Homo sapiens: one gene and its partners. The protein of the gene in region 5 purifies or fractionates together with the protein of the main gene of each other region. This does not show direct contact. Each region holds a gene or a part of one and is shown on either strand. Other genes may lie near its edges.

What was found.
Region 1: the proteins of MTMR3 (region 5) and ORC4 purify together in Homo sapiens (affinity purification with mass spectrometry, with the first as the bait; one large-scale study listed by BioGRID). This does not show direct contact.
Region 2: the proteins of MTMR3 (region 5) and IPO5 purify together in Homo sapiens (affinity purification with mass spectrometry, with the first as the bait; one large-scale study listed by BioGRID). This does not show direct contact.
Region 3: the proteins of MTMR3 (region 5) and MAPK1IP1L purify together in Homo sapiens (affinity purification with mass spectrometry, with the first as the bait; one large-scale study listed by BioGRID). This does not show direct contact.
Region 4: the proteins of MTMR3 (region 5) and HEATR1 purify together in Homo sapiens (affinity purification with mass spectrometry, with the first as the bait; one large-scale study listed by BioGRID). This does not show direct contact.
Region 6: the proteins of MTMR3 (region 5) and NUP205 purify together in Homo sapiens (affinity purification with mass spectrometry, with the first as the bait; one large-scale study listed by BioGRID). This does not show direct contact.

What each region holds. Positions count from the first base shown.
Region 1 is NC_000002.12:148,014,238-148,017,737, forward strand, and holds part of ORC4 (origin recognition complex subunit 4), read right to left. Parts: intron 1-3,500. UniProt on the Homo sapiens protein: Component of the origin recognition complex (ORC) that binds origins of replication. DNA-binding is ATP-dependent. The specific DNA sequences that define origins of replication have not been identified yet.
Region 2 is NC_000013.11:97,960,175-97,963,674, reverse strand, and holds part of IPO5 (importin-5), read right to left. Parts: intron 3,329-3,500; exon of another isoform or gene 3,272-3,328; intron 516-3,271; exon of another isoform or gene 393-515; intron 1-392. UniProt on the Homo sapiens protein: Functions in nuclear protein import as nuclear transport receptor. Serves as receptor for nuclear localization signals (NLS) in cargo substrates.
Region 3 is NC_000014.9:55,054,647-55,058,146, reverse strand, and holds part of MAPK1IP1L (MAPK-interacting and spindle-stabilizing protein-like), read right to left. Parts: intron 1-3,500.
Region 4 is NC_000001.11:236,584,017-236,587,516, forward strand, and holds part of HEATR1 (HEAT repeat-containing protein 1), read right to left. Parts: intron 3,475-3,500; coding exon 3,386-3,474; intron 2,437-3,385; coding exon 2,225-2,436; intron 1,926-2,224; coding exon 1,804-1,925; intron 1,201-1,803; coding exon 1,009-1,200; intron 1-1,008. UniProt on the Homo sapiens protein: Ribosome biogenesis factor; required for recruitment of Myc to nucleoli. Involved in nucleolar processing of pre-18S ribosomal RNA. Required for optimal pre-ribosomal RNA transcription by RNA polymerase I.
Region 5 is NC_000022.11:29,886,174-29,889,673, reverse strand, and holds part of MTMR3 (phosphatidylinositol-3,5-bisphosphate 3-phosphatase MTMR3), read right to left. Parts: intron 1-3,500. UniProt on the Homo sapiens protein: Lipid phosphatase that specifically dephosphorylates the D-3 position of phosphatidylinositol 3-phosphate and phosphatidylinositol 3,5-bisphosphate, generating phosphatidylinositol and phosphatidylinositol 5-phosphate.
Region 6 is NC_000007.14:135,578,417-135,581,916, reverse strand, and holds part of NUP205 (nuclear pore complex protein Nup205), read right to left. Parts: intron 3,167-3,500; coding exon 3,002-3,166; exon of another isoform or gene 2,991-3,001; intron 1-2,990. UniProt on the Homo sapiens protein: Plays a role in the nuclear pore complex (NPC) assembly and/or maintenance. May anchor NUP62 and other nucleoporins, but not NUP153 and TPR, to the NPC.

The DNA of each region.
Region 1 (3,500 bases), on a different chromosome or scaffold from region 5:
AAAGCTGGGGACTCAGATAAACTACCCAATTTATGTTCAGAGTTTAAGGACAACATCATTAGGATAAGAGGAAATTGAAGGAAAATAGAATTCATGATCTTAAAGTCTTCCTTAATGTCATGTGTATAACAGAAGGAATCCCAACTCTTGAACATGAATAGTGACTTGGGACTGAAAGCACTCCTAGAGACCTTTCCTAGAAAAATGTACCTTCTTAAAAAAGATACTATTATTCTAGGACTCATATATTCCTATAATTTTTTAAATACAACTGGTACTCAAGGCACACAAGAAAAAAATATCATAAGCTAGCAGACACAGACTTAGAAAATTTAGAAACTGGAATTATCTTCAACAAACAACAAATGAACTATGAATATAGTCGGCCCTTCATAGCCACAGATTCACTCAACCAAGGATTAAAAATACATGTATATTTTTAAAAACACGACTATAAAAAATAATAGAAATTTTTAAAAAGCCATGACAGTATAACAATATTTACATAGCATCTACATTGTATTAGGTACCATAAGCAATCTAGAGATTATTTAAAATACGTGGGAGGATGTGTGTAGGCCGTATGCAAACATGATGGCATGTTATATAAGGAATTTGAGCTGCCTGTGGATTGTGGTATCTGCACGGGGTTCTGAAACCAATTTCCAGCAGATACTAAGGAGCAACTATACTAGGCCAATAAAAGCAAGATTGTAATTTTCAGCAGGTAACCAGAAACAGTAAGAATATCACCAATATCTTTAAAAAGATACTGATGCATTGATCTAATAATCTCGATGAATACAGGGCAAGATAAAGAATGCCACACGATGATTGAACATTTCCTCTACCCCCACAACCACACTTGACTAGGAGAAAAAAAAAAAAGAAGAAAAGAATTCCACACAAAAAGATTAGAGTGAAACAGCAGAAAAATTACAACCAAAAAAAGAAACAAACAAAAAAAAATTCTAAAAGAGAGATTTCCTTCAAAGCAGCATGAATTATTAGGTTGGTACAAAATTAATTGTGGTTTTTGCATTGTTGGAATTTGCCATTTGATATTGGAATTTTTTTTTTTTTTTTTTTTTTTTTGAGATGGAGTCTCTCTCTGTTGCCCAGGCTGGGCTGCAGTGGCGCGATCTCGGCTCACTGCAAGCTCTGCCTCCAGGGTTCACACCATTCTCCTGCCTCAGCCTTCTGAGTAGCTGGGACTACAGGCACCCGCCACCACGCCTGGCTAATTTTTTGTATTTTTAGTAGAGACAGGGTCTCACCATGTTAGCCAGGATGGTATCGATCTCCTGACCTCGTGATCCGCCCACCTCAGCCTCCCAAAGTGCTGGGATTACAGGTGTGAGCCACCACACCCGGCCTGGAATACATTCTTAAATAAATGTGGTTATGTTATATGTCATTTTAATGGGCATTTCTTGCTTTTTTTTTTTGGCTAATGACTTATTACTTGCTGTTTATATTTATTTTGGACTATGGAAATGATGCTAGACAAAAAGCAAAGTTGAGTGATTTTCTTATTTAAGTTCAAAGTGGGTCGTAAAACAGCAGAGACAACTTGCAATATCAACAATGCATTTGGCCCAGGAACTGCTAATGAACGTACAGTGCAGTGGTGGTTCAAGAAGTTTTGCAAAAGATACCAGAGCCTTGAGGATGAGGAGTGTAGTGGCAGGCCACTGGAAGTTGACAACAACCAATTGAGAGCAATCATTGAAGCAGATTGATCCTCTTACAATTACATGAGAAGTTGCTGAAGAACTCAACGTAAGAACTCAACGTCAACCATTCCACAGTTGTTCAGTATTTGAAGCAAATTGAAAAGGTGAAAAAGCTCGATAAGTGGGTGCCTCACCAGCTGAGCAAAAATTTAAAAAAACACCGTTTTGAAGTGTTGTCTTCTCTTATTCTCCACAACAACGAACCATTTCTCAATCGGACTGTGAGGTGCAACAAAAACTAGATTTTATATGACAAGCAATGACCAGCTCAGTGGCTGGACCGCGAAGAAGCTCCAAAGCACTTCCCAAAGCCAAACTTGCACCAAAAAAGGCCATGGTAACTGTTTGCTGGTCTGCTGCCGGTCTGATCCACTACAGCTTTCTGAATCCTGGAGAAACCATTACATCTGAGAAGTATGCTCAGCAAATCAATGAGATGCACTTAAAACTGTGATGCCTGCAGCCAGCATGGGTCAACAGAAAGGGCCCAATTCTCCACAGTAACACCCAACCGCACACTGCACAACCAACACTTCAAAAGTTGAACGAACTGGGCTACAAAGTTTTGCCTCATCTGCCATATTCACCTGACCTCTCAACTGACTACCACTCCTTCAAGCATCTCTACAACTTTTTTCAGGGAAAATGCTTCCACAACCAGCAGGATGCAGGAAAAAGCTTTCCAAGAGTTTGTGGAATCCTGAAGCATGGATTTTTACATTACAGGAAAAAACAAACTTATTTCTTGTCGGCAAAAATGTGTTGATTGTAATGACCTATTTTAATTAATAAAGATATGTTAGAGCCTCGTTATAATGATTTAAAATTCGCTGTCCCAAACCACAATTTCTTTTGTACCAACCTAATGCATTGACAGCTGATTTCTCAAAATCAATAATGAAAACCAAAAACAGTGAAATGTTATCTTCAAGGTACAAGTAAAACAACCACAAATCTGTAATATCCCCCAAAACATTCTTCAAGATTGAAGGCAAAACAAAAAATTAAGACAAAGCAAAAAAATTAAGAGAACTGACCATCAGAATGTCTGCATTATGAAACTTCTACTGAGTGTGCTAAAGTAAAAGTTAAAAGATTCCAAAAGAAAAGTCAGAGACGCAGGAAGAAATTAAGACATGGTAAACACATAGGAACATCTAGCTCAAAGTACTGTCCAGCAGCAATACAGTAAAAGTGACATAAGTAATTTAAAATTTTCTATTGTTCACACTAAAAGAAAACAAGGTGAAATCAATTATAATTTCAACATGTAATCATAATGAAAAGCTGAGGTATTTTACATTGTTTTCATACTGTCTTTGAAATATGGTGTTTATACAACATTACAATGCAGATGCTAAATTAAAACTGCCATATAAAATACTTGATCTATATTTTTATATAATTTGCAGCTAATGCCGGGTGCAGTGGCTCACGTCTGTGATCCCATCACTTTGGAAGCCCAAGGTGGGTGGATCACTTGAGGTCAGGAGTTTGAGACCAGCCTAGCCAAAATGGTGAAACTTTGCCTCTACTAGAAATAAAAACATTAGCCAGGTGTGGTGGCACATGCTTGTAATCCCAGCTACTAGGGAGGCTGAGGCAGGAGAATCACTTGAACTTGGGAGGCGGAGGTTGCAGTGAGCCAAGATCATGCCACTGGACTCCAGCCTGGGCAACAGAGCGAGACTCCATCTCCAGGGGGGAAAAAATCTCCAAAAATTAAAAAATAATAATTTAATAATTTGCGGTTAAGAAAGGTTT
Region 2 (3,500 bases), on a different chromosome or scaffold from region 5:
TAATAATGGCCGGGTGCAGTGGCTCACACCTATAATCCTAGCATTTTGGGAGGCTGAGGCGGGCAGATCATGAGGTCAGAAGATCGAGACCATCCTGGCCAACATGGTGAAACCCCATCTGTACTAAAATACAAAAAATTAGCCGGGCGTGAGGGTGCATGCCTGTAGTCCCAGCTACTTGGGAGGCTGAGGCAAGGGAATTGCTTGAACCCAGGAGGCGGAGATTGCAGTGAGCTGAGATTCCACCACTGCACTCTAGCCTGGTGACAGAGCTAGACTCCGTCTCAAAAAAAAAAAAAAAAGCTATAATAATTAAGACACAAGTGTTACCGGCATAAGGACAGACATATAGATCAATGGAATTGAATAGTGACTCCAGAAATAAACCTTACATGTGTTGTCAGACTGATTTTTGACAAGGATACTGTGATGGTTAGTTTTATGTTTCACTTGGCTAGGCTGTTGGAGCCCCGTTGTTTGGTCAAACAGCAGTCTAGATGTTGCTGGGAAAGTATCTGTGGATACAATTTAACATTTATAATCAGTTGACTTTAACTAAAGCAAATTACCCTCCACAAGGTGGGTGGGCTTCATCTAATCAGTTGAAGGCCTTAATAGCAAAGATGGAGGTTTCTGGGGGAAGAAACAATTCTGCTACAAGACCACAGCACAGAAACCTTGCCCGAATCTCCACCTGCTGGTTTGCCCTTCAGATTTCAAACTCAAGACTACAACATCAACTCAAACCTGAATTTCCAGCCTGCTAGCCTGCCCTGCAGGATTTGAACTTTCCATCTCTCATAATTATGTAGCAGATTCCTTAAAATAAATCTATCTATCTACCTTTTTTTTTTTTTTGAGACAGTTTCACTCTGTCACCCAGGCTGGAGTGCAGTGGCACAATCTTGGCTCACTGCAACCTCTGCCTCCCAGGCTCAAGTGATTCTTGTGCCTCAGCCTCCTGAGCAGCTGGGACTACGGATGTGCCTCACCATACCCAGCTAATTTTTTGTATTTTTAATAGAGACAGGGGTTTCACCATGTTGGCCAGGCTGGTCTCGAACTCCTGACCTCAAGTGATCTGCCTGCCTGGGCCCCCCAAAGTGCTGGGATTACAGGTGTGAGCCACTGTGCCCATCCATCTATTTCTTATTGGTTCATTTTCTCTTGAGGACCCTGGCTAATATAGGAGCCATGACTGTTCACTGTGGAAAGATTGTTGCCGGTACAACTTGATATCCACATGCGTTAGAATGAAGCTGGACCCATACTTCACGTCATAAAAACTTCAAAGTGGATCATAGACTAAATGTAAGAGCTAAAACTATAAAATTCTTACAAGAAAATATAGGACTAAATCTTCATCGCTTTGGGGTAGGCAATCATTTTTTAGCTATGACATCAAAATCACAAAAGGCAGAAGAGAAAAATGGATACATTGAACTTCACAAAATTAAAACCTTTGTGCTTTTAAGGACACCATCAAGAAAGAGAAAAGACAACTCATAGAATGGGAGAAAATATATGCAAATAATGTATATTTTTTGAGACAAAGTCTCACTCTGTCACCCAGGCTGGAATGCATTGGCATGATCTCAGCTCACTGCAGGCTCTGCCTCCCAGGTTCAAGTGATTCTCCTGCCTCAGCCTCCAGATTAGCTGGGATTACAGGTGTGCGCCCCCACGCCCAGCTAATTTTTGTATTTTTAGTAGAGATGGGGTTTTGCCGTGTTGGCCAGGCTGGTCTTGAACTCCTGACCTCAAGTGATCCACTCACTTTGGTCTCCCAAAGTGCTGGGATTACAGGTGTGAGCCACTGCGCCTGGCCACAAATCATATGTCTTATAAGGGACTTATATCCAGAATATTTAAAAAGCCCTACTCTCAATTAAAAAAAGACAACCCAATTAAAAAAATGGGTAAAACATTTGAATAGACATTTCTCCAGAGAAAATATACAAATGGCCAATAAGCACATGAAAAGATGTGCAACATCATTCATCATTAGAGAAATGCAAATCAAAACCACAATGTAAGTTACCACTTCATACCCAATAAAATGGCTTTAATAAAAAAGGCAACAGCAAGTGTTGACAAGAATGTGGAGAAATTCAAACGCTCATACTTTGCTAATAGGAACATAAAATGTTACAGCCAATTTGGAAAACAGTCTGAATAAGCTGGGTGTGGTGACGCATGCCTGTAATTCCAGTTACTCGAGAGGCTGAGGCATGAGAATCACTTGAACCTGGGAGGCAGAGGTTGCGTTGAGCCGAGATCGTGCCATTGCACTCCAGCCTGAGTTACCATTTGACTCAGTAATTTCACTCCTAGGTATATGTGCAAGAGAAAAGACAACATATGTTGACACAAAAACTTGTACATGAATGTTCATGGCAACATTATTCACCACAGCCAAAAAGTGGAAACAATTCAACTGTCCATCCACTGGTGAATGGATAAACAAAATGTCTTCTAACTATACAAGGAAATATTACTTCGCAATAAAAGAATAAAGTAATGATACATGTAACAACATGAGTGAACCTTAAACTCATTAGACTGCCTGAAGGAAATCAGACAAAAAGACCACACATTTTTTTGGTCCCACTTATGGGAAATGTCCAGAATCAGCACATCCATAGACAGTAGATTGGTGCTTGCCATGTGCCTGGGCATGGGGTGGGTAGGGGAATCAGTGAGTGCTAGCAGGTATGGAGTTTTCTTTTAGGGTGAGGAAAGGGTGATAGTGATGAATGTGCAGCCCACTGAATATACTAAACACTCCATTGTACACTTTAGAAGGTTGAACTTTAGGCTGGGTGAGGTGGCTCATGCCTGTAATCCCAGCACTTTGGGAGGCTCAGGCGAGTGGATCACCTGAGGTCAGGAGTTCGAGACCAGCTTGACCAACATGGTGAAACGCTGTCTCTACTGAAAGTACAAAAGTTAGCTGGGCGTAGTGGTGCGCGACTGTAATCCCAGCTACTCAAGAGGCTGAGGCAGGAGAATTGCTTGAACCCAGGAGGTGGAGGTTGCAGTGAGCCGAGATCATGCCATTGCACTCCAGCCTGGGTGACAAGGGTGAAACTCCATCTCAAAAAAAAAAAAAACCAAATAAATAAAATAAAAAGTAAAATTTGGACTTTATGGTGTATGAATGTCTCAATAAAGCTATTATATTAAAAATACATTTCCTTAGAGAGCTGAAGGATATTGATTTAGACCTCAATTAGTGATTTTTTCCCCCTATCATTCACAGTATTTTTACCTTAGTTCTGAATCCTTGAGTGATAACCATTCATAACCTTCAAACTTCGGAGAATTCCTAAACCAATATTTGTGGAGAGGGAGAATGGGGAGATTCAGATATGATTTGGTCTGTAGACTTTCCTTCCCATCTTTTTGCTACTTACAGCAAGTATCTTACAATTTGGACACATGACATACACATTTCACCTCCTGCATTGTGAGGACATACATAATGGAGTCTGAATTGT
Region 3 (3,500 bases), on a different chromosome or scaffold from region 5:
CTACGCGGCCCAGTCTGTGAGCGTGGGTGTAGGTGAGAGCACCCTGTGCTGGGATGGCGTCCAGTTCAGGGCTGGTTCCCAACTTGGACTCTGAATTGCCAAGAAAGGCTCCAGCCATTGAGACCCTGAACTGGAAGAGGGAGGCAAATAATTATCTTTTTATTAATCTTTCTTAAATGTATACACAGCTCACATTCATTCAATTTTTTTTTGAGACAGGGTCTTGCTCTGTCACCGAGGCTGGAGTGCAGTGGTGTGATCACAGCTCACTGCAACCTCCACCTCCCAGGCTCAAGTGGATCCTCCCACCTTAGCCTTTGAGTAGCTGGGACCATAGGCATGCTAATTTTTAAAATTTTTAGTAGAAATCATTTAAATTTTTTTTTTTTTTTGAGATGGAGTCTCGCTCTGTCGCCAGACTGGAGTGCAGTGGCGCGATCTTGGTTCACTGTAACCTCCGCCTCCTCAGTTTAAGCGATTCTCGTGCCTCAGTCTCCTGAGTAGCTGGGACTACAGGTGCGGGCCACTACACCCACTAATTTTTGTATTTTTAGTAGAGACGGGGTTTCACCATGTTGTCCAGGATGGTCTCCATCTCTTGACCTTGTGATCCGCCCACCTTGGCCTCCCAAAGTGCTGGGATTACAGGCGTGAGCCACTGCGCCCAGCTCATTTAAATGTTTAATACTAGAAGTGTTTTGGGTTTTATTTAAAAGTTTAGTGATGTTTTTGTTACCAGAAATATGCCATAGGAATTTAACTCTTCTTTATATTAATTAACCTAGGGTAGGAAGCATCATTACTGAATTATTTTATTCTTCAAAGTTTCTCACTTGATTCTCTGGTATTTCCAGATAAAAAATACGCCATTTGCAAAAAATAACTTTCCTTCTCTAATATTTATGCATCTTTTCTGTTTTGCACTTGCTAGGACTTAAATAATGAAATGTTGAGTGATAGTGGGCACAGAGGTCTTGCTCCAACTCTCCTGGGAATGCTAATGTTTAAGTATGATTCCCATTTTTAGTTTGAGATTTTAAAAAATTACATTATTTTTAATTTATGCCTATGCTATTATTTATTCCTATTCTGTTAATAAAGAAAGCAAGAAGACATTAAATTCCCTCAAAAGACTTTTCAGTATCTAATGAATTGATCTCATGCTTTTTCTCCTTTGACCTATCAATACAGTATTAACATAGAGCCACCTTTGTATTCTTAGCATCTTATTTCTAATTATGATTTGATTATCATGAGGAAAGGACAAGAACATAAAGGACAAGAACCCAAGCCTATCCCAACTGCTATATCCTTTTTATTCAGAATATCAAAAAACATGGCCGGGCGCGGTGGCTCACGCCTGTAATCCCAGCACTTTGGGAGGCCGAGGAGGGCGGATCACGAAGTCAGGAGATTGAGACCATCCTGGCTAACAAGGTGAAACCCCGTCTCTACTAAAAATACAAAAAATTAGCCAGGCATAATGGTGGGCACCTGTAGTCCCAGCTACTCAGGAGGCTGAGGCAAGAGAATGGCGCGAACCCAGGAGGCGGAGCTTGCAGTGAGCTGAGATCAAGCCACTGCACTCCAGCCTGGGTGACAGTGCAAACTCCGTCTCAAAAACAAAAAAACAAAAAAACCCACATACAACCCATTCCCATGTTAAGGTTTAACGTCAATCACATCACACAATAAAATTTTTAGGACTAACAGTGTAGAAAATATACGGTAAGTTGTAAGGCTAACATGCTTTTTAAACAGGGTTAGCCTTTCTGAAATAGAAAATGATTCTGTATCAAAGTTCATATTAATTCTGGAGTTGAGAATCAAAGTGAACCAAATGGCCTTGACTGTTCAGGTTTTCAGAATTATACAGTTACCTAGTCATGGAATTACATAAATTATTCTACAAGTTAATAATATTCAACTGATTCACAACACTACTTCAAAATTTTAAAGTTCAAAATCCAAGTCTGGAAGATAGGGGAGGTGCTAGAATCTTGTGATTAAAAAACAAAGCCCTAAGCATAGGAATTAGTAACAAGTTCTGTTCTACGGCACTGTCTTAGTAAAGTGACCAGCTCTCCATTCCTAGAATAAACAGCGTTCATGTTAGGGTGATCCCCCCTTATCTGTGGTTTTAATTACCTAAGGTCCGAACATATTAAATGAAAAATTCCAGAAATAAATAATTCGTAAGTTTTTTGTTTTGTTTTTGAGATGGAGTCTCGCTCTGCCACCCAGGCTAAAGTGCAGTAGTGTGATCTTGACTCACTGCAACCTCCGCCTCCCAGGTTTAAGTGATTCTCCTACCTGAGCCTCTCAAGTAGCTGGGATTATAGGCACGTGCCACCACGCCCGGCTAATTTTTAATTTTTGGTAGAGACGGGGTTTCACCATGTTGGCCAGGCTGGTCTCAAACTCCTGGCCTCAAGTAATCCGCCCACCTCAGTCTCCCAAAGTGCTGGGATTAGGCATGAACCACTGCACCTGGCCAATTCCTAAGTTTTAAATGGGGCAAGAGCATGTTCTGAGTAGCAAAATGAAAGTTTGCCCCCTCCTGCCTAGGACGTGAATCATCCCTTTGTCCAGTGTATCCATGCTGTATACGCTATCAGCCCATCTTGGTTATTAGATCTAAAAAACATGGTATACTTAGGCTTCGGCAGTGTATACAGACTTCAGTTTCAGGGATTCATTGGGGAGTCTTGCAATGTGTCCCCCTAGGATAAGGGGGAACAACTATAATTGGAAGCATTCCAATTTGTTCTTTGGAGAATACTTTCATTAGAAAAGGTGAAAAACAGTTGGACATGAACGTTTCAATATGAGGAGAGTTGCAGAACATAAAAAGTTTAGGTTTTCTAAAAAGCTATTCTAAGCCGCGCTTGGTAGTGTGCACCTGTAATCCCAGCTTCTCAGGAGGCTGAGGTGGGAAGACCGCTTGAGGCCAGTAGTTAAGAGACCAGCCTGGGCAATATTAGTGGCACTCTGTCTCAAAAAGAAAAATAAATAAAAATATAAAGCTATTCCAAAATATCTGAATCATCGCTAATTATTAAGATGAGGCCAATGTAACCTTGAACTCATAAAAACAATTTATACTCAAGAAAGGCTTTCTTTTTTTTCTTTTTGGAATAATCTAAAGCTATTATTTCCAAAACTTTGTTACCATTTTATAGCATGATCCACCCATCATCTGAAAAACAATACTTTTTATTCTTTGAATAGCAAGAATAGTAATTTTAAAACAGTACAAAATGTCTTTTGACATACACTAGAAAAGTAAAACATAACATTTTTGGAAACTCTCATGGCTGTTAGGGTAAAAATCATGGGTCAGGGAGGAGGGTGGTTAAGAGAGTTGAACTCCATGAATTACCAGTGGAGTTCATGGATATTTCAGACAGCCTTCAAATTGTGATGGAGTGATAAACAGTATGGGACTACACAGTGATGAAACCCGGACATGAATCCTTTTGACGGTTATCTTTTGACAA
Region 4 (3,500 bases), on a different chromosome or scaffold from region 5:
TGTACAAGCAGTACAGAGTAATAACTTAGAAGGAAAATAATCCAAAGCCAGATTTACAATGTAACGTCTCCAGTGAGGGATTTGATTAACTCAACGTGCTGCTACAGGCGAAAACATGCTCATGACCTCGAGAAAGGTATTAAAAGTAAAGCAATATAAAATAACCTGTTATCTACATATGTATAATAAAACACTCTATTTGTCCATACTTTTAACACTGAGAACCAGTATAGTTCAGGTCATCATACTTCACAAAAGACACCAAGAAACTAAAAGTTAAGAAGGGCCTATCTGGACTATTTTTCAAAATATGAAGATTTTACTCTTTTTAAAGTTTACACATTTTAGCTAACAATGGCCATGATCAGAACTTATAAAATCCTGCGGGTATACGTAAATGTGAAAAAGATATAATTCATTTAGTAAATCCTATAATGAGAAGCCCTCTAAAATTTGGAGGACAAATAAAAACAAAATCCTTACATATAGCAGATATTAAAAAAAAAGTCTTGCTACCTCAAAACATGTCAAATGTAAACAGCTGAAACATGTCCTTTAGTAATACTATGAAAGACAGTAGTAGGCTGGAGGGATACACATCTATGTAATATTAAAATTATTTAAAGCCTAAAAGATCTATTTTTAGTAAACAATTGAATGAAATAGTATTTTGTTCAAGCACTAACACACCAAGTGAATTCTTCATCGCTAGAGGTAGTTAGGTGTAGCTTGGGTAATTATCCAATAAAGACAATAAAAGAGAGGAGAGTCAGGCATCAGATACAAAATATTGCAACCCTAAAATTTTATAATTCAACTAAACTTTCCGCAAAAGCAAGGGAGTGCCTAGTTGACTATCTCACTGCTACCCAAGACTGCTTCACATTTCATCCAGCTACTATCCACAGACTCAACATCTCGCCTCTGATTTTCAGTTTTGCTGTGACTAATAGGCCAGGCTGTTGTTTTATTCAACATCCCACTTTCTGGAGATTCTGCTTTCCTTACCACTGCAGTAATGACACTTTCAAGCTTCTTTATTTTTTTCTGCAACAAACTGAAGACTCTTATCGCAAATGGAAAGTGGGTTTCTTTTAAAGATGAACAACAAGAGACGAGCACAGACAGGATCACATGAAACGTTACTTTCTGCTTCAGGTTAAAGGACTCCTCCTCACCCACGCTTATTAAATCCTCCACCTTGAAAAATAAACACACTCTATTACCAGTTGCTCTTGATTTTCATAAAACAATTTTTTCAACTCAGGTCTATCTAGGTATTATGTGTTTTACATTTAAAGTGAGATGACAAACAGAAAGCCTTTATAAAGTACTAAGCACTGATTTCTAAGTAATTATAAGAATAATTTCAGAAACTGTAATGAACATAATTGCACTTGCCAACTGGTTAATGTATTTAAATCACACATCTAATCCTTTACAAAGGTTTATTTAATAAGGCAAAGATAATTTTCTCCTCTTTGGGATTATATTTTGCTATTTTAACAACAACAACAACAAAAAGACTAATATTTTAAATGGGAATGAGAAAAAATGGTGGTAAAAAGGATATATTATTCTTATGGGTGTGATATGGATCCACATTGAAAAAATATATAAAATGTTAAAAGATTTCAAACATTGCACAGAATATATTAAACAACACTGCAACGTTTAAAGTAAAACCAAGTACTCAAGAATAAAAGAAATTTTTTTTAAGAAAAATCTAGTAAAGCAAAAGCTGAGAATTTAATAAGAGTATGAGAAAGAAATCCAGGGGGTGGACTTTCAAAGCATACTTACCATCTTTAACATTGAAGAAGGATCTCCTAAATTTATATTATCAGCCAACAACTCAATCATCTTCTGATTTGCTACACCGATTAGTTTTCCTGGCTTTGTGCTTTTAATTACATTTTCAAGAGCTGTAAAGTAAAATCGAATGCAGAGAGCTCTTATGTCACCAACACTCAAAGAATCACATGAAGAATTCAGGCAAACATTTTACTATTGTTTATGAAGGTTTGCTTTCTATTTTTCCTTGTATCCGATTCTGAATTTGTCTATGAATTGGCTTCCTTTTCACTGTATACTTTTTATCTTGGCAAAAATTTTAAAAGACCTTACTGGCATATAAGCATGACCAACAATAAATTTTAAATTTTCCTTGTTTTCTTTTGTGTTATCTGTTCACTTTTTCTAAAAAAACAACTGAATTTTTTACCTTCTTCCCAGCCTCTTAATAGAGGGTGCAGGGAGCAGATTCCTGATTTTGATAAATATATAGCAATTTTCATCTCAGCAGATTCCGTATCATCATTATTGATAACCATAAATGGCAGCAAACATACAACCACCTGATTTGACAACTGATCATTTTCACTCAGTATCTCTTCTTTAATTAATATGTCAGCGGCTATCTTAAGTACCTCGTACCTAAAAGACATGCAAGCACACTTGGTTGAAAGACACATTGGAAGGCTTCAATTGGGCAAAAATTCATCATTACATTACTCCAGCTTAACTGACAATATCCTGGTCTCCTGACCAAAACTATTATTCAGATACACTAAGACACCACTTAAAATCCATGCCAATAACAGAGTTATCTGTGACAATATTTTTATTTATTTATTTTTTGTACAAGTGCTGGGATTACAGGCATGAGCCACTGTGCCTGGCCAACAATACTTTTAATCTGCTCATCCTGTCTAATCTTAAAAAAAAAATAATAATTTTTCTTAGAGAAATCACTAGAGGTTAACTATAACATAAGACATATCACACTAGATGTCTCAACTCTACCGGAAATCAGGTTCACTCAGGCACTCAAAAAAAATGAACCAAGCACATCCTACATGATAGATATCTACCCATACGATAGATACAAAAACACGTAAGACACACTCTCATCCTCTATGGAGCTTGCTTACTTTTTCTTGCAAAAAGCTTTGGTGCCAAAAATGAAATAAACAGAGCTCATTAAAAACTTACCACAGATGGTATCATGTGTCTCTGAACTTATTTTTTAATTTGTTTAACACATTGGTATTTGTTTTTAATTATAAAGTAAAAATTACATAAAGCAGCAAATTAGAAAGTCCTACCCATCTTACTTCCCAGAATGCAATATCATACATTATATACTTCCTTTTGCATTTTATTAAGAGAAATTCCAAACATAGAGAACAGTATAATGAACACACACAAACACAAATTAATTAACTGTATAATGAAAGAGAGTATTACAGTAAGATCTGTTCTACTACCACGACAAAAGGGTCATGTAATCAAAGCCTTAAAAAAAAAAAGAAGAAGAAATAGAAAGAACTTGATATAAGAACTTCATCAATTCAAAATAGTATGAGGAGAAATGAATACATACCATTCTCCATTCTTTGAAAGTTCTGCTCTTTGAAAGAGATTCAGAAGATTTGAAATCGTCACTTCTGAACTGAAGTGTTCTTTGAAAATCTAAAGGGAAAAAAATATCCAGAGTA
Region 5 (3,500 bases):
AAAAAAACAAAAATACCAAACATTACATCCAGATGGGATTACAGGTCATCTCTACTTTTTTTTTTAAAAAACACTAAAACCGTTCTGGGCCAGGTGCAGTGGCTCACGCCTGTAATCCCACCACTTTGGGAGGCGAAGGCAGGCGGATCACCTGAGGTCAGGAGTTCGAAACCAGCCTGGCCAACATGGTGAAACCCTGTCTCTACTAAAAATACAAAAATTAGCCAGGCGTGGTGGCAGGTACCTGTAATCCCAACTACTCAGGAGGCTAAGGCAGCAGAATTGCTAGAACCAGGAGGCTGAGGTTGCAGTGAGCTGAGATCACACCACTGCATTCCAGCCTGAGTGACAGAGCGAGACGCCATCTAAAAAAAAAAAAAAAAAAAAAAGTTCCGTAGCTTTCATAACCAGAAATAATTTCATTTTGAAATTTAAAATAAGATTAAGTTAAAACTCCAAATTATAGTGTCCTATATCACTTCCAAAACTCTTTATAAACACTCTGCCTTCCCATGTCATTTGTGGAATCAGTCTAAACAATTAAATATTTGGTTTATCTCATGGAAAAATGATAGGCATAGAATAAATAACAACCCTATTTCAAGTTATAACCATCTTGTCTTCATACCAATTCTTGCCAGTTATGTCATGATTTATCAATATACTTATAATTTCCTTATATTTTGCCAGATTATAAATCTATGAATAATTCTGAAAACTAAATAAATTTATATTTCTCTTCTGCAACTAAGTTATAAAAGTATTAACGACTTGGGGAGGCTGAGGCAGGGAGAATCACTTGAACCCAGGAGGCGGAGGTTACAGTGAGCCGAGATCGCGCCACTGCACTCCAGCCTGGGCAACAGAGCGAGACTCTGTCTCAAAAAAAAAAAAAAAAAAAAAAAGTATTAACTAATAAAGAAATTAGATTTCGACCCCAGGTAAGTGAAATCAGAAAAGCTTGCTATCATCTGTCATAACAGAATCATTCTGAATATCCGTAGTTATCAGCATCAAGACAATACCTCTGTGGTTAAAGTACTCCATACTCCATGTTAAGGGAAAAGAGTACTTAAGAATATTATTACAGCATAAGTTCATGTGCTTTGTTCATTAAATCAACAGTTCAGAACATAGCTATGAGGTATTTCACCACTAACAGAATAGCTTTAAGGTAACCCACCTTCACAATTTTCTTTTTGTTTTCGTTAGTTTCATGCCTTACTATTTTATAGACAGTCATTCTATCCACATTGCCCAAGTACTATGTCCCCAAACAACGACGACAAAGTTTTATCACAACCCAAAAGAAAAAAACAACCTTTTAGGCCAGGCACAGTGGCTCATGTCTACAATCCCAGCACTTTGGGAGGCCAAAGCAGGAGGACTACCTTTGAGCCCAGGAGTTCAAGACCAGCCTGGGCAACGTAGCAAAACCCTGTCTCTACAAAAAATGAAAATTATAATTTTTAAAAAGAAAAAATACATTTTACACGGCAACCAAGTATACATACATAAAAATATCTTTTAAAAAGAAACAAAAGTTTCCCAAATCTTGAACCCGGGAGGCAGAGGTTACAGTGAGCCGAGATCGTGCCACTGCACTCTAGCCTGGGCAAACAGAGCAAGATTCTGTGTCCAAAAAAAAAAACAAAACAAAACAGTATTAACTACTAAAGAAATTAGATTTAGACCCCAGATAAGTGAAATCAGAAAAGCTTGCTACCATCTGTTGTAACAGAATCATTCTGAATATCTGCAGCTATCAGCATCAAGACAATACCTCTGTGTCTATATTTACTTTTACTTTATGCAATGTACTGATATATTCTCTTTCTGAAAATGCTTTTTTAAATAAGTACATTGATTTCATTACCCTATGACACTGCCACCTGCTACTTAAAAACACAGCCTTAGAACTTTACACAGAATGTGCTGAACTCCTTGCTCCTACCACCTTCTACCACTGCTCCAACATAAGAAAATGGGTGAAATCTAGCCAAGTCTATTCCAAGTAGAGACCTTGGCATAAATGTGAGACATCCCAGGTTCCTCTGAAGTCCCTGCAACATTGTGACTATTCCGACTGGCAGACAGGATACATGTGCTGAAAGGTTTCTCCAGCCAGAGTACAGAAGCAGAAACCTTCTCTGTTGCCATATCAGTGATATTGGTAAATTCTGCACTTGACAATACAGACTAGGTTTACCACTGCTCCACAAGCCAATTCTTCAAAGACATAAAATAGGATTCTAATACAATACGATTCTAATACCAGCCCCTTACATTTTTAGAATGCTTTTCATATACACTATTGTTTGATCCACAGTCTGTTAGAAAAGTAGAAAAGTTGCTCTTCTTCCTTTCACTAATGAGGGAACTGGAGCTCAGGGGGGTTATGTAGCTTGCCAGAAACAACATGGGTAATGAAGAATAACAACCCAGGCTTGAACCCAAGATTTACTATCTACCCACTTTCATGCTACAATTTTCATTTTTAATATCTGATACAAATATGAACTTAAAAGGTATATTGTTTCTAGATACAAAAGCAAAGATGAAAGCATATCAGTATTGATATCACAAAATTAAGATTAAAAATAGCAATGACATGTTAATAATTTGGTAGCCTCTAAAGTTACTGGGAGTTCTAGTTCAATCCAGTATGAATCTGATATCATCTTATAACTTAAATCAATGTTACACTGATTATAAATTTATCTATATATTCATCATAGAAAATTACAGAATTAGGTGGTAAGAAACAGCTAGCTATATAAATTGCACAAACTCCCCCCAAACCATTCTCAAGTCTCATGACTTCACACTAAATTATGAAGTTCCCAATGTAAAACCCAATTTGATTTCAACACTAAGCCAATTACAACAGCATAAGCATGTTCTTTCTACATAACACTTGCAACATACATTCAACATCGGAAGCACTTTTGGACAATGTCTAAAATCCATAAGCTAAAAGCAGAACCCAACACAGAATCTTGTTTCTTTTAAATAATAAAAGTTCATCTACCTATATGAGATGAATACCAAATAACATAATTAGAAATGATTAAAAATTTGCAGAATCAGGCTAGAGAAACTACTTGAGGTCAAAGACTATAGGCCCTTAATTGTATATATGAGAAAACTGACGCCCAGAGAAGTTAAGTGACATTCCCAACAGCAATAAATGACACAGATGGAATCAGAATATATGTCTGTCAATCCAGAACTTCCCACTATTCTATACTACCTTTGCACTTACTGTGCTCTTAAAAAAGTAACTAACATCTGAAACACTTAAGATTCATTAAGACTCAAAAACTAGGGGACTCGATAATGTTCATGACAGTCTTTAGAAAACAATTTCTTAAAGGAATCTCAAAAATTCCAAACAATAAGCACTGAAAGCTGGCTCTTCATTTTCATTTTCTTTCCTACCCAGAGCCCTATTTGATCAAAAATTGGCTCTTTAATCCATTGCAAAATATCAGGTAGCT
Region 6 (3,500 bases), on a different chromosome or scaffold from region 5:
AAATTCTGTAAAGCTTAGTGAAATTACAAAAATGCTTGGTTTTTTTGTTGATTTTTTTTTTTTGGAAACAGAGTTTCACTCTGTCACCCAGGCTAAAGTGCAGTGGCATGATCTCAGCTCACTGCAACCTCTGCCCACTAGGTTCAAGCAATTCTCCTGCCTCAGTCTCCCAAGCAGCTGGGATTACAGGCACGCGCCACCATGCTTGGCTAATTTTTTGTGTTTTTAGTGGAGATGGGCTTTTACCACGTTCGCCAGTCTGGTCTTGAACTCCTGACCTCAAGCGATCCACCTGCCTCATCCTCCCAAAGTGCTGGGATTACAGGCGTGAGTCACCACACCCGGCCGATGCTTGTTTTTTTAATTTTTTTTGAGATGTGATCTCACTCTGTCACCCAGGCTGGAGTGCAGTGGAGCAATTTCAGCTCACTACAGCCTCTCTCCTGGGCTCAAGTGATCCTCCTGCCTCAGCCTCCTGCGTAGCTGGGACTACAGCCAAGGGCATGTCACCACACTGGGCTAATTTTTAATTTTTTGAAGAGATGAGGTATCACTACATTGCCCAGGTTTGTCATGAACTCCTGGGCTCAAGCAATCCTCCCACCTTGGCCTCCCAAAATGCTGGGATTATAGGCATGAGGCACTGCACCTGGCTTCATGCCTTTTATAGAATAATATAATAAAAACATTTGATAAAAGTTTCAGAAGTCTATGAAGAGAACAGAAACCAATTTTTCAAATTGGAGATCTTCGTTAAAACTTGTCTGGATTATTTCAAGAAGTGACCATTTCTGCAAAATAACACAAGCTAGTCATTTTTTCTAACAATTTTTAAAATGCAAATTAACAGAAAAATTTTTATAGTTTAAAAATTCTAATTATAATACCCCTAACTATTAAAGCTTATAAAAGGATATGAGCATATAAAATCAAAGAGATTAAGTAGCCAAAGATCTGGGACTTGAAACTAGGGCTGTGATTCCTAACCTATTTTTACTATTATTCTACAGCAAACTATAGCATATTCTATTAAACCTTTCAAAACTAGTGCAGTGGTATGGGCAATTATAGCATAAGATTGTGACCATATTACATAATATTATAATAACTATCTATGTATAACTATATTATATAGTTAATATATTAACTATCACACCTGGGCATGGTGGCTCGCGCCTGTAATCCCAGCACTTTGGGAGGCCAAGGCAGGCAGATTGCCTGAGCTCCGGAGTTCGAGACCAGCCTAGGCAACCCGGTGAAACCCTGTCTCTACTAAAATACAAAAACTTAGCTGGGTGTGGCGGCGTGCGACTATAGTCCCAGGTACTCCGGAGGCTGAGGCAGAATTGCTTGAACCCAGGAGGCAGAGGTTGCAGTGACCTGAGATCATGCCACTGCATTCCAGTCTGGGCAACAGAACGAGACTCCATCTCCAAAATAAAAAAAGAAGATATTAACTATCACATAGCCACTTCAAAGGTTAAAGGGTAACTTTATGTCAGAAAAGTAGTGAAATAAGACTTATAAATGATGAGGGTACGTACAGGTGAGAAACAGAATTTGTACGGGAATGTAAAAGTCTAATTCGCTATCAGCATTTAGATATATAGATGACAGACAGATAGAAATTAACTGGCCAAAGAAAGACTCCTAACACAAAAAAAGCTTTCTGCAAACACCTTGGGAACAGCATGACACTAGTGAAAACAAAATGTTCTGGAATTACACGATTGATAAGATACTAGAATCTGTTGATACTTTAGGATTAGAAAACTGACATAAATTGTAAACTTGAATAAAGCCTTTCTAGATTTACCATAAAAAGACAATTCTTTGGGCTTCGTGTTCCATGTATGGTTCTCATTCTGTTAGAATAAACCCCTACTAATATGACAATTAAATAATGTAAATGTAAATAGCAGAATAATATATGCTACAGTGAGTTAACAGGTTGTTAAAAGTCAGTATTCTGGTCAGGCGCGGTGGCTCACACCTGTAAACCCAACACTCTGGGAGGCCAAAGCAAGTGGATCACCTGAGCTCAGGAGTTCGAGACCAGCCCAGCCAACATGGTGAAACCCTGTTTCTACTAAAAATACAAAAGATTAGCCGGGTGTGGTGGCGTGTGCCTGTAGTCCAATTACTTAAGAAGCTGAGGCAGGAGAATCACTTGAACCCAGTAGGTGGAGGTTGCAGTGAGCCGGGATCGAGCCACTGCACTCCAGCCTGGGCCACAAAAAAGAAAAGTCGGGATTCCACATCTGTTCTTGACTGATCCAAATATCTCCTTTTTAATACACTGTATGGAAAAATAACTGTTTTTAATTTGACACAATGTGAAAAACTAGTTTGTGAACAAATCAAGAAGTAAAATATATAAAAATAAAAGGAATAGTATATTTTAATTTTAAAAAACATTTAAGGCCGGACGGGGTGGCTCACGTGTTGCAATCCCAGCACTTTGGGAGGCCAAGGCAGTCGGATCACCTGAGGTCGGGAGTTCAAGACCAGCCTGACCAACATGGAGAAACCCCATTTCTACTAAAAATACACAATTAGCCAGGTGTGGTGGCGCATGCCTGTAATCCCAGCTACTTGGGAGGCTGAGGCAGGAGAATCGCTTGAACCCGGGGGGCAGAGGTTGCAGTGAGCCGAGACTGTGCCATTGCACTCCAGCCTGGGCAACAAGAGCAAAACTCCATCTCAAAAAAAAAAAAAATTAATGTGACACTGTCATTCCAAATTTTAAACTCATACCCTGAAGGTAAAAGAGCATTGTCAGTGGCTCCAAGAATGGGAAATAGTATTTCATATGATATTTTTGAGAGACAAGGAGAAAAAAGTCTGTATTTCACTACTACACTAAAGGTTTCATTTAATACAACTCTGGATATCTTCCTATGCTTATGCTTATGTATGTCAAAGATAATACTCCTTCCAAAAATGTCATTAAGTGCTAACATGCTGTTTCTCATAACAAAATTACCTACAATCAATTCACCTGTCACATCAGGTAGCTGGGATATTCCCCTCAATGCCAGCGCCCAGGCAAGTCTAACAGTGGCTTGGAGCCCAGGCAGTTTCCAAAGCTGTGAGTCCTGAAGACGAGAGTGAATTGTTGCAATGTACTGTTTTTCTGTCAACAGTGGAAGTTGATGAATCATATCTGAAAACACAAAAATAGACCACTTTACCGATCACCAGATAAATTCTCACTTCTGATACACAGGAATAATATCCAAAAGTCAGAAAATCTGAGCATTCTCACAGAAGAATAATGACCAATTAACATTAATTTCTACATCCCAAAAGGTACACTACTGTTGATTGTACACATACTAAAAACAAAAAAAGAAAATGACAATAATCCTAAATTTCAATTTCACTATTTTCAGTCATTTTTATAAGTGTACTACAAATAAACAAGAAAAAAGTTAGACACTCATTTTTTCTGCACATAAATTCTAAAATAGAAATCATGCTATCTAAAGATCACAAAA